2 linked regions of the Homo sapiens genome follow. The protein of the gene in region 1 purifies or fractionates together with the protein of each later gene. This does not show direct contact. Each region holds a gene or a part of one and is shown in the gene's direction. Other genes may lie near its edges. The genes, in order: UAP1L1 and WDR1.

Region 1 (4,522 bases):
GATCCGCCCGCCTTGGCCTCCCAAAGTGCTGGGATTACAGAAGTGAGCCACTGCGCCCGGTTTTTTTTTTTTTTTTTTTTTTGAGACAGAGTTTCGCTCTGTCACCCAGGCTGGAGTGCAGTGGTGCGATCTTGGCTCACTGTAACCTCCGCCTCCCGGGTTCAAGTGATTCTCGTGCCTCATCCTCCCAAGTAGCTGGGACTACAGGTACACGCCACCACACCTGGCTGATTTTTGTATTTTTAGTGGAGACGGGGTTTCACCATGTTGCCCAAGCTGGTCTTGAACTCCTGGGCTCAAGCGATCATCCTGTCTCGGTATCCCAAGGTGTTAGGATTACAGGCATGAGCCACTGCACCTGGCCACCATTTGAATTCTTTTATGCAGTCACATATATTACTTTTAGACTTACTATATAGTTTCTAGGAGAAAGTTTTGTGCCCAACTGGCAGAAGCTACCCTTTCATATTTTTCACAAGCAAACTATTTTATTTTTATTTTTATTGAGAAGTCTCACTCTGTCTCCCAGGCTGGAGTGCAGCAGCAGGATCTCGGCTCACTGAAACCTCCGCCTCCTGAGTTCAAGGCCTCCTGCCTCAGCCTCCCGAGTAGCTGGGACTACAGGCGCCTGCCACCACACCCGGCTAATTTTTCTATTTTTATTAGAGACGGGGTTTCACCATGTTGGCCAGGCTGGTCTCGAATTCCTGACCCCACTTAGGACTCCCAAAGTGCTGGGATTACAGGCTTGAGCCACCGCGCCGACCACAAGCAAGATATTTTAAAACCTGATAGTAAAATAACAATGTGGGCGAGGGGCTGCAGAGCGCTCTGGTCACCAGGCAATGGGAAGCAGGAAGGGTGTGCGGGAGGGAGCCCCAAGCCGCGGGATGGCATCCCGGAACCTGGTCTGGTTCCAGCCTCCCAACAGCTCAGCCGTAGCCCAGGCCTCTTCAATGCACTCTGGCCGGTTGTCTCTGCACCAGGAGGTCTCCGTCCAAGTCTTGGTTAGCGCAAAGGTGGCCATGCCACTCTCAGGTTCAAAGCCCGTGCTGGGACAGAACCTAGCTTTCCCCTGCGGGGCGTCCCTGGGGCCTCTTCCTCCCTTAGCTCAATGGTCGATTCCTCTGCCCACGCCAGCTGGCGCGACCCAGAGGGTCCTGGGATCTCTCGGGGCGGGGCGCGGAGTGGACAGGGCGGGCATGGGCCCGGGGCCTGGAGAAGAGCAGGAACGGGGACGGGAGCTCGAGGGAGCAGGCCAGGGCCAGACACCGGAGCGGGTCCAGGGGACGGAGAGGGACGGGGGACAGGCTGGAGAGATGGGGCTGGGCCCTGTCTCGAGTCTCGGACCGGACGCGGGGGGGCTGGGGGGATGTAGACAGGGCGGGGTCAGAGAGAACCCGGACAGAGTCTGGGGTGCGCAGCGGGGGTGGGCGGGCTCCAGGGCAGGGCGCGGGACCGGGCGGGATGGGGCGGGGCGGGGCGGGGCGGGGCGGGGCGCCCGGGGCCCGCCCCACTGGGGGGTCTACACCGCCCGCCCGGTCTCGTGACGCTGGTCAGTGGCGCGGGTCACGAGTGCCGACTTGACAGACGGCAGCGGCGACATGGCTTCGGAGCAGGACGTGCGCGCCCGGCTGCAGCGCGCTGGCCAGGAGCACCTCCTGCGCTTCTGGGCCGAGCTGGCGCCGGAGCCACGAGCCGCGCTGCTGGCGGAGCTGGCGCTGCTGGAGCCCGAGGCGCTGCGCGAGCACTGCCGGCGGGCGGCGGAGGCCTGCGCGCGCCCCCACGGCCCGCCGCCCGACTTGGCCGCGCGCCTGCGGCCCCTGCCCCCAGAGCGCGTGGGCAGGGCCAGCCGCAGCGACCCCGAGACACGGCGGCGCTGGGAGGAGGAAGGTAAGCGGGGTGGGAGGCCCTGGGGGCCGGCAGGGGGTCGTGCCCACGGAGCGGGTGGGAACCGAGGCCGCGCTCGGGGAACTGTAGTTCTCCTCGCTACTTTGAGACGTGTCTCGCCTCACGCGTTCCGGCCCCCGAGTCCTGGCGCCCCAGCCCCAGAGTTGGTTTCCCCTAAAGCGGAAGGGTGGGCGGGTCCCGGGCGTCCCTTCACGGCGCCCGTACCCCCAGGTTTCCGTCAGATTTCTCTGAACAAGGTGGCCGTCCTGCTGCTGGCTGGGGGGCAGGGCACTCGCCTGGGCGTGACCTACCCCAAGGGTATGTACCGTGTGGGGCTGCCCAGCCGGAAGACCCTGTACCAGCTGCAGGCGGAGCGGATTCGGCGGGTGGAGCAGCTGGCCGGTGAGCGCCACGGGACCCGCTGCACCGTCCCCTGGTGTGTCCTGCCTGCCCTACCTCGGCCCGGAGGTACCCTTCCCCACGCCCCCCCACATCCCCGCTCCAGACGCGAGCCCCAACCCCGGCACAGACCGGGACATTGCCCAGAACCGGCCCAAAATGGGGCCTGGCCCCAGCCCCAACTGGACACTGGACCCCGAACCCCGATGCCGGCTCTGGTCCGAGCCCCGTCTGCCTGCAGGGCCAGGCGTACTCGCGGCCGGCTCACCGCGCCTCCCTTGCAGGTACGTCATGACCAGCGAGTTCACTCTGGGGCCCACGGCCGAGTTCTTCAGGGAGCACAACTTCTTCCACCTGGACCCCGCCAACGTGGTCATGTTTGAGCAGCGCCTGCTGCCTGCTGTGACCTTTGATGGCAAGGTTATCCTGGAGCGGAAAGACAAAGTTGCCATGGCCCCAGGTGTGGCCCGTTCCTGAGACGGGGAGGGACCGCCCAGACTAGAACTGGGAGCGTAGTTGGGGGTCCACGCGCCCGGGTTCGCGGCTGCCCCGAGGCTGTGTGGTCCTGGGTTAGGCGCCTCTTTTTCTGGGCCTTGATCGTCATTTGTCACATGGTACACCAACTGGGCTGTCTGGTTAGTGACCAGGGCTGCCTTAGGCACAAGGCCGGGGCTTCCCCCGCCTCCAGCACGTCCTAGACTCCCAGAGCGATCCCTGGCGGGAGCCCTCGCGATGCCCATTCCCTTCTCCGTCTGCAGACGGCAACGGGGGCCTCTACTGCGCGCTGGAGGACCACAAGATCCTGGAGGACATGGAGCGCCGGGGAGTGGAGTTTGTGCACGTGTACTGTGTGGACAACATCCTGGTGCGGCTGGCGGACCCTGTCTTCATCGGCTTCTGTGTGTTGCAGGGCGCAGACTGTGGCGCCAAGGTTAGCGCCCGACTGCGCGGCGCCCCGCACCCGAGGCTGGCCCCGCCCCTCACGGAGCCCCGCCCCTCCGCCCAGCCCTCGGAACCCATCCCTGGTCTTGGCTGCAGGTGGTGGAAAAGGCATACCCCGAGGAGCCCGTGGGCGTGGTGTGCCAGGTGGACGGTGTCCCCCAGGTGGTGGAGTACAGCGAGATCAGTCCTGAGACCGCACAGCTACGTGCCTCCGACGGGAGCCTGCTGTACAATGCAGGCAACATCTGCAACCACTTCTTCACCCGAGGCTTCCTTAAGGCGGTCACCAGGTGTGCGGCAGCAGGTGGCTGCGGATTGCCGGCCAGAGCCGCCTGCGTTGACCAGGGACCCGCGGGGTCCCAGTGAGCTGAGTGCCCTGGGCCACAGCGGCTGTGGTCAGGAGTGGCTGTGGTCAGGCACGGCTGATGGGTCGGGGTGGAGAATGGATCCTGAGCTTGCAAAGGCAGAGGTGCTGGAGATCAGGCACAAGCCGTGCTCAGCAGGCAGCTGCTGTAAGGCTCTGTGATCAAGTCTGCCATCTCCTCCTTCTGGGGACCTGCCCTGGTGCCCAGGGTGCTACCTCTGCTCTGGGGCTTGCCAGTTTGTTTGCCTGGGCAGGGATGTGGCTGATGGTGCCTGGCACTTGGCACAGGGATGCAGGGAGGAGGCCTGTGCCTGCTTCTCCCTGGAGATCTGGCCCTACTCTGCCGCTTCTGTGCCCTGTAGTGTCCTTCTGCCATCCTGTCCCACCCAGCTGGGTGTGCTCAGAAGTGGGGACAGAGCCCCCAGCGGTGCCATATCTGATCTGTTTCTTTCCTCCCCTCTGCTCTCCCGTGCCCCAGGGAGTTTGAGCCTTTGCTGAAGCCACACGTGGCTGTGAAGAAGGTCCCGTATGTGGATGAGGAGGGGAATCTGGTAAAGCCGCTAAAACCGAACGGGATAAAGATGGAGAAGTTTGTGTTTGATGTGTTCCGGTTTGCTAAGTTAGTAGTAGAACTCATTTATTTTCCCCTTCTTCCTTCTCTCAGTTTTGGTGGTGGGAACTGAGGCGCAGCTGGTAGGGAAGTAGAGGCTTGAGGGAGCCAAGGGCCCCGCGGGCAAGTCTCAGGGAGAAGACCAGAGGGTGCTCTTGGCCCTGAGGGTAAGCAGCCCCTGAGGTGGGGGCATAGGGAGTCCTTGGGGCTGTGGACTTGGGAGGACAGTAGTGCCACCTCCCGGACCTTCCACTGCCCCCACCCATGGTTAGGAGAGGTCTCCTGGCCAGGTTGCCAGGGCGGCTCGCAGGGCCTTT
Region 2 (3,799 bases), on another chromosome or scaffold:
TGCTTATTTAAGGATCAGTCTCTGATACAAACTCTTGTTGACTGCGGAAAGAATGCATTCATTTCCTTATTCGAGTAACAGAGTCGCCCCTGGAAGTCATGTCATTTCCTTTTAGTCGCTCAGGCTCTTGTTCTTGATGAAGGTCATAATCATTAACTTTGTTTAAAAGTTAATTATTGGCCAGGCGCAGTGACTTACTCCTGTAATCCCAGCACTTTGGGAGGCCAAAGCGGGGAAACATGAGGTCAGGATACTGAGACCATCCTGGCTAACAAAGGGAAACCCCATCTCTACTAAAAATACAGAAATTAGCCAGGCGTGGTGGCGGGCACCTGTCGTCCCAGCTACTCGGGAGGCTGAGGCAGGAGAATGGCGTGAACCCGGGAGGCGGAGCTTGTAGTGAGCAGAGATTGTGCCACTGCACTCCAGCCTGGGCAACAGAGCCAGACAGGGCTGGTGCCTCCAGGAAGAGGCCTCCTGGTCTCAGCCATCGTGAAGCTTAAGGATTGGGGCTTGAGCTCTTTCAGAGCCCAGAGGGAAGAGGGCAGCTGCTGGGGGCACCTCACTGGGGGGGGCATAACTGGAGGTGGTCTGCCTTCGCTCGGGCTAATCAGCTTTCCCAGCAGGTAGAGCGGTCAGCATGGCAGGCAGGCTGGAGCAGACTCCTGCCCCTCCACTAAGGGACTGCCCAGGATGTTTTTTTAAGCTCTGAAATTTTCCAGTGGACTAACAGTTCACACTGATGAACAGCTGGAGCTGCAAGCTGTGTTTCATAGAGAGCATTCTTGAACCTAGAGTCAGGCCTGCGGCCCCTCATCAGGCAGGTAATTGTTTTCCTGCAGGACCACAGCCGCTTTGTCAACTGTGTGCGATTCTCTCCTGATGGGAACAGATTTGCCACAGCCAGTGCTGACGGCCAGGTAAGAACTGGGATGGGTTTTGGGGTGGGGAATGGCTTGTCTGCCTGCTCCCGTGACTGCTCAGAGCCGCAGGCTGCCTAATGCTAGTCCTGACATGCAGAACTTAGACATCGCCCTCCCCACATCTGCAGACTCGTCGTCAGAGCCCAGTAAATGCATGTCTGCTTTTAAACCACACTGGGAGCTTAGTCTGTGAGCCCCGGTTTTCTACAGCCACAGTCCATGGAGAAACTGCTTACTCCAGAGGGTGTTCACACACACATGACCCACATGTTTTTATTTCTTGGAAGATATACATCTATGACGGGAAGACTGGGGAGAAGGTGTGCGCGCTGGGCGGAAGCAAGGCCCACGACGGTGGGATTTACGCAGTGAGTATGAGCGTGTTTCCCGGCCTAGTGGTGGGAATTTGGCCGAGTCCACGTGTCAGTCCATCCACACTCACTCCGGAGTTAGACAAAAACTTGAAATGAGGGGCTATAAGTCGGGGCGGTTTTATATCTGCCCAGAAAAGCTTTAAGGTCGCAATAAGGTGATGGGAGAAGGTAGTGGCTGGAACGGGAGACCTGGAGGCGGGTGTTGTCCTTGGCCTCACTCATGTCCCACCCTCTCTCTGGGCTCCTTCTGTCCTACTCAAACAGTCGCAGTGGACAAGCTGCTTTTTGGGGTCTCTCTCCAGTCTGTAGTCCTCTGGCACATGACACACTGCTTTTTTCTGAATAGATTAGTTGGAGTCCCGACAGCACCCATTTGCTTTCTGCTTCTGGGGACAAAACTTCCAAGATTTGGGACGTCAGCGTGAACTCCGTGGTCAGCACATTTCCCATGGGCTCCACGGTTCTGGACCAGCAGCTGGGCTGCCTATGGCAGAAGGACCACCTGCTCAGTGTCTCCCTGTCCGGGTACATCAACTATCTGGACAGAAACAACCCCAGCAAGCCCCTGCACGTCATCAAGGTAAGGCCTGCCCTGGGGAAGGCTCTGCCCGCTGGGTGGACAGGGAAGAGACCAGAGTGGCCAGCAAGGAAGGGGAACCGAGGGGAAGCCAGGTGGAAGCTAGAGAGGTGTCCTCAGGCCTCCTTGGCCCTTGGGGTTTTGGTGGAAGGCTGGGATGCTGGTTGCTTTCTTGGGACATGAGTTTAGCCATGGTGGCAGGCCAGGTGCCAAGTTCCCCTTGAGCTACTGTGAGAACTGGAGAGTCAGGGCCTAGTGATTCGGGGCAGTGGCCATCACCCCCAGCTGTTGAGAGCGGTTACTTCCTGCAGGGCTCTGCCTTCCCTGAATTGGGAGTGCACAGCCTGTGCTTTACCCGACTGCAGGCAAGAGCAGAAGCTCACTGAGCACCAGGGCAGGTGACGGGGCATCGCTGAGGTCCAGGGGCAGGAGGGAGGAGCAAGAGCAGGTGGCCTTGGGCCTGGGCCTTGGCGCTGCCTGGAGTTTGAATGTGGTGGGCAGGGTGTGAAGGAGATACTGGAGTTCCATAAGGGAGCGATGGGAGCAGGAGGAAACGGAGTTAGAATCATCCATGGGTCCCAGGTGTGAAGGCCCCAAATGCCAACCTGGGGAGGAGCAAGGTGCCTGCTTCTGAACCCTAACCCGGAAGGGTTCACTTGAGCCAAAGGCTCCCTGTGTTCCATTGGCTGGGGGGGTCCTGCCTTCTCCCTCCACCCACACCAGCCAAGTTGACGCCTCTGGGAATCTCGCAGCTGGACAGGAGCCAGAGCAGGGGTCCCTTCTGTATCCTCAGGTCCTCCTCTCACAGCAGCGCCCTCGCCTGCTTCCCACACTGCATCTGCTGGGAACTCCAAGTCAGGTTCCCCCAGCGCTGGTGGCCCAGGGTGGGTGACCCCTCCTGCTATTCTAAGCTGTAATATCAAGGCAGGTGGACAATGCACTTCATCCCAGCAGCCCTTCTCGGGCTCCTGCTTTAAGCCACTCGGGGAGACAAACCCTAGCACTTCCCTCACCCATTGCATCCTGCTGCCGTGGAGCTCTGGGGGACCAGCCTCTGCAGAGGGTCTGAACCCTGCAGGGCTAGTGTGGGCCAGCCTGGAGCAGCCCCCGGGCCTGTGCACTCGGCCCGTGCTGTGCTGTCAGTGGCTCCTTCACACCACGGCTTCTAGGAGGGGCTGCTAGAATCACCAAATCCATTCTACATGGGAGTTTGCCCACGAGGAAGGGGCCTCGTTAACGTTGTGTGTGTGACTCCTACGGACCAGGTCACCTCAACGCTCATGCATAGAGTCACGGTTCCTTTGTGCCGGGGCAGTGGGGGCAGCAGCACTGCTGAGAGGGGGAAGGCTGAACCATAAAGGTTCACTAGACGTGGCCTCGAGGATAGAGGGGAATCGGGAGCGCCTCCTTGCTGGGCTCACAGCCCAGGGTGATGAGTATAAAAAGGAAGGCACGCACAGCATGGGGCCGAGGAGGTTGTTGCCTGGGGGAGCTGAGGGCTCTTGTCGAGACCATGCTCCAGTGGGCCTCCAAGTGGGATGGTGAGAAATTGTACACGGGTGAGTAAGGCTTCGCTACTGCCCAGAAAAACAGTTTCCCATGAGCCATCCCCGACAGTGTTCTCCAGGTGTCAGCCCTCAGGTCTGCCGTCCCGTTTCTGTTGGCAGGGCTGCCCTGAGAGTGCTCTTCCTAATACCACTGCTGCCAACTGTCTGGGGCCAGTGCACCCGGCCTGCCACCGTGGCTAAACTTATGTCCCAAAAAAGCAACCAGCATCCCACCCTTCCACCAAAACCCCAAGGGCCAGTTGTCAAAACCCCCATGTCCCAACTCTCAAATGCCACACCTGTGTGAGTCACGCAGATGCTGATGTTCGGTGCTGATCTGGGCTGCAGTGGGATGGAGCAGCAGGTATCAGCCCAGGC

What was found.
Region 2: the proteins of UAP1L1 (region 1) and WDR1 fractionate together in Homo sapiens (co-fractionation; one large-scale study listed by BioGRID). This does not show direct contact.

Annotation. Positions count from the first base shown.
Region 1 is NC_000009.12:137,075,929-137,080,450, forward strand, and holds the start of UAP1L1 (UDP-N-acetylhexosamine pyrophosphorylase-like protein 1), read left to right. Parts: upstream 1-1,588; 5' UTR 1,589-1,604; coding exon 1,605-1,893; coding exon of another isoform or gene 1,894-2,121; coding exon 2,122-2,326; exon of another isoform or gene 2,327-2,358; intron 2,359-2,573; coding exon 2,574-2,749; intron 2,750-3,047; coding exon 3,048-3,220; intron 3,221-3,327; coding exon 3,328-3,521; intron 3,522-4,073; coding exon 4,074-4,214; intron 4,215-4,522.
Region 2 is NC_000004.12:10,085,785-10,089,583, reverse strand, and holds part of WDR1 (WD repeat-containing protein 1), read left to right. Parts: intron 1-842; coding exon 843-920; intron 921-1,051; coding exon of another isoform or gene 1,052-1,210; coding exon 1,211-1,291; intron 1,292-1,643; coding exon 1,644-1,877; intron 1,878-3,799.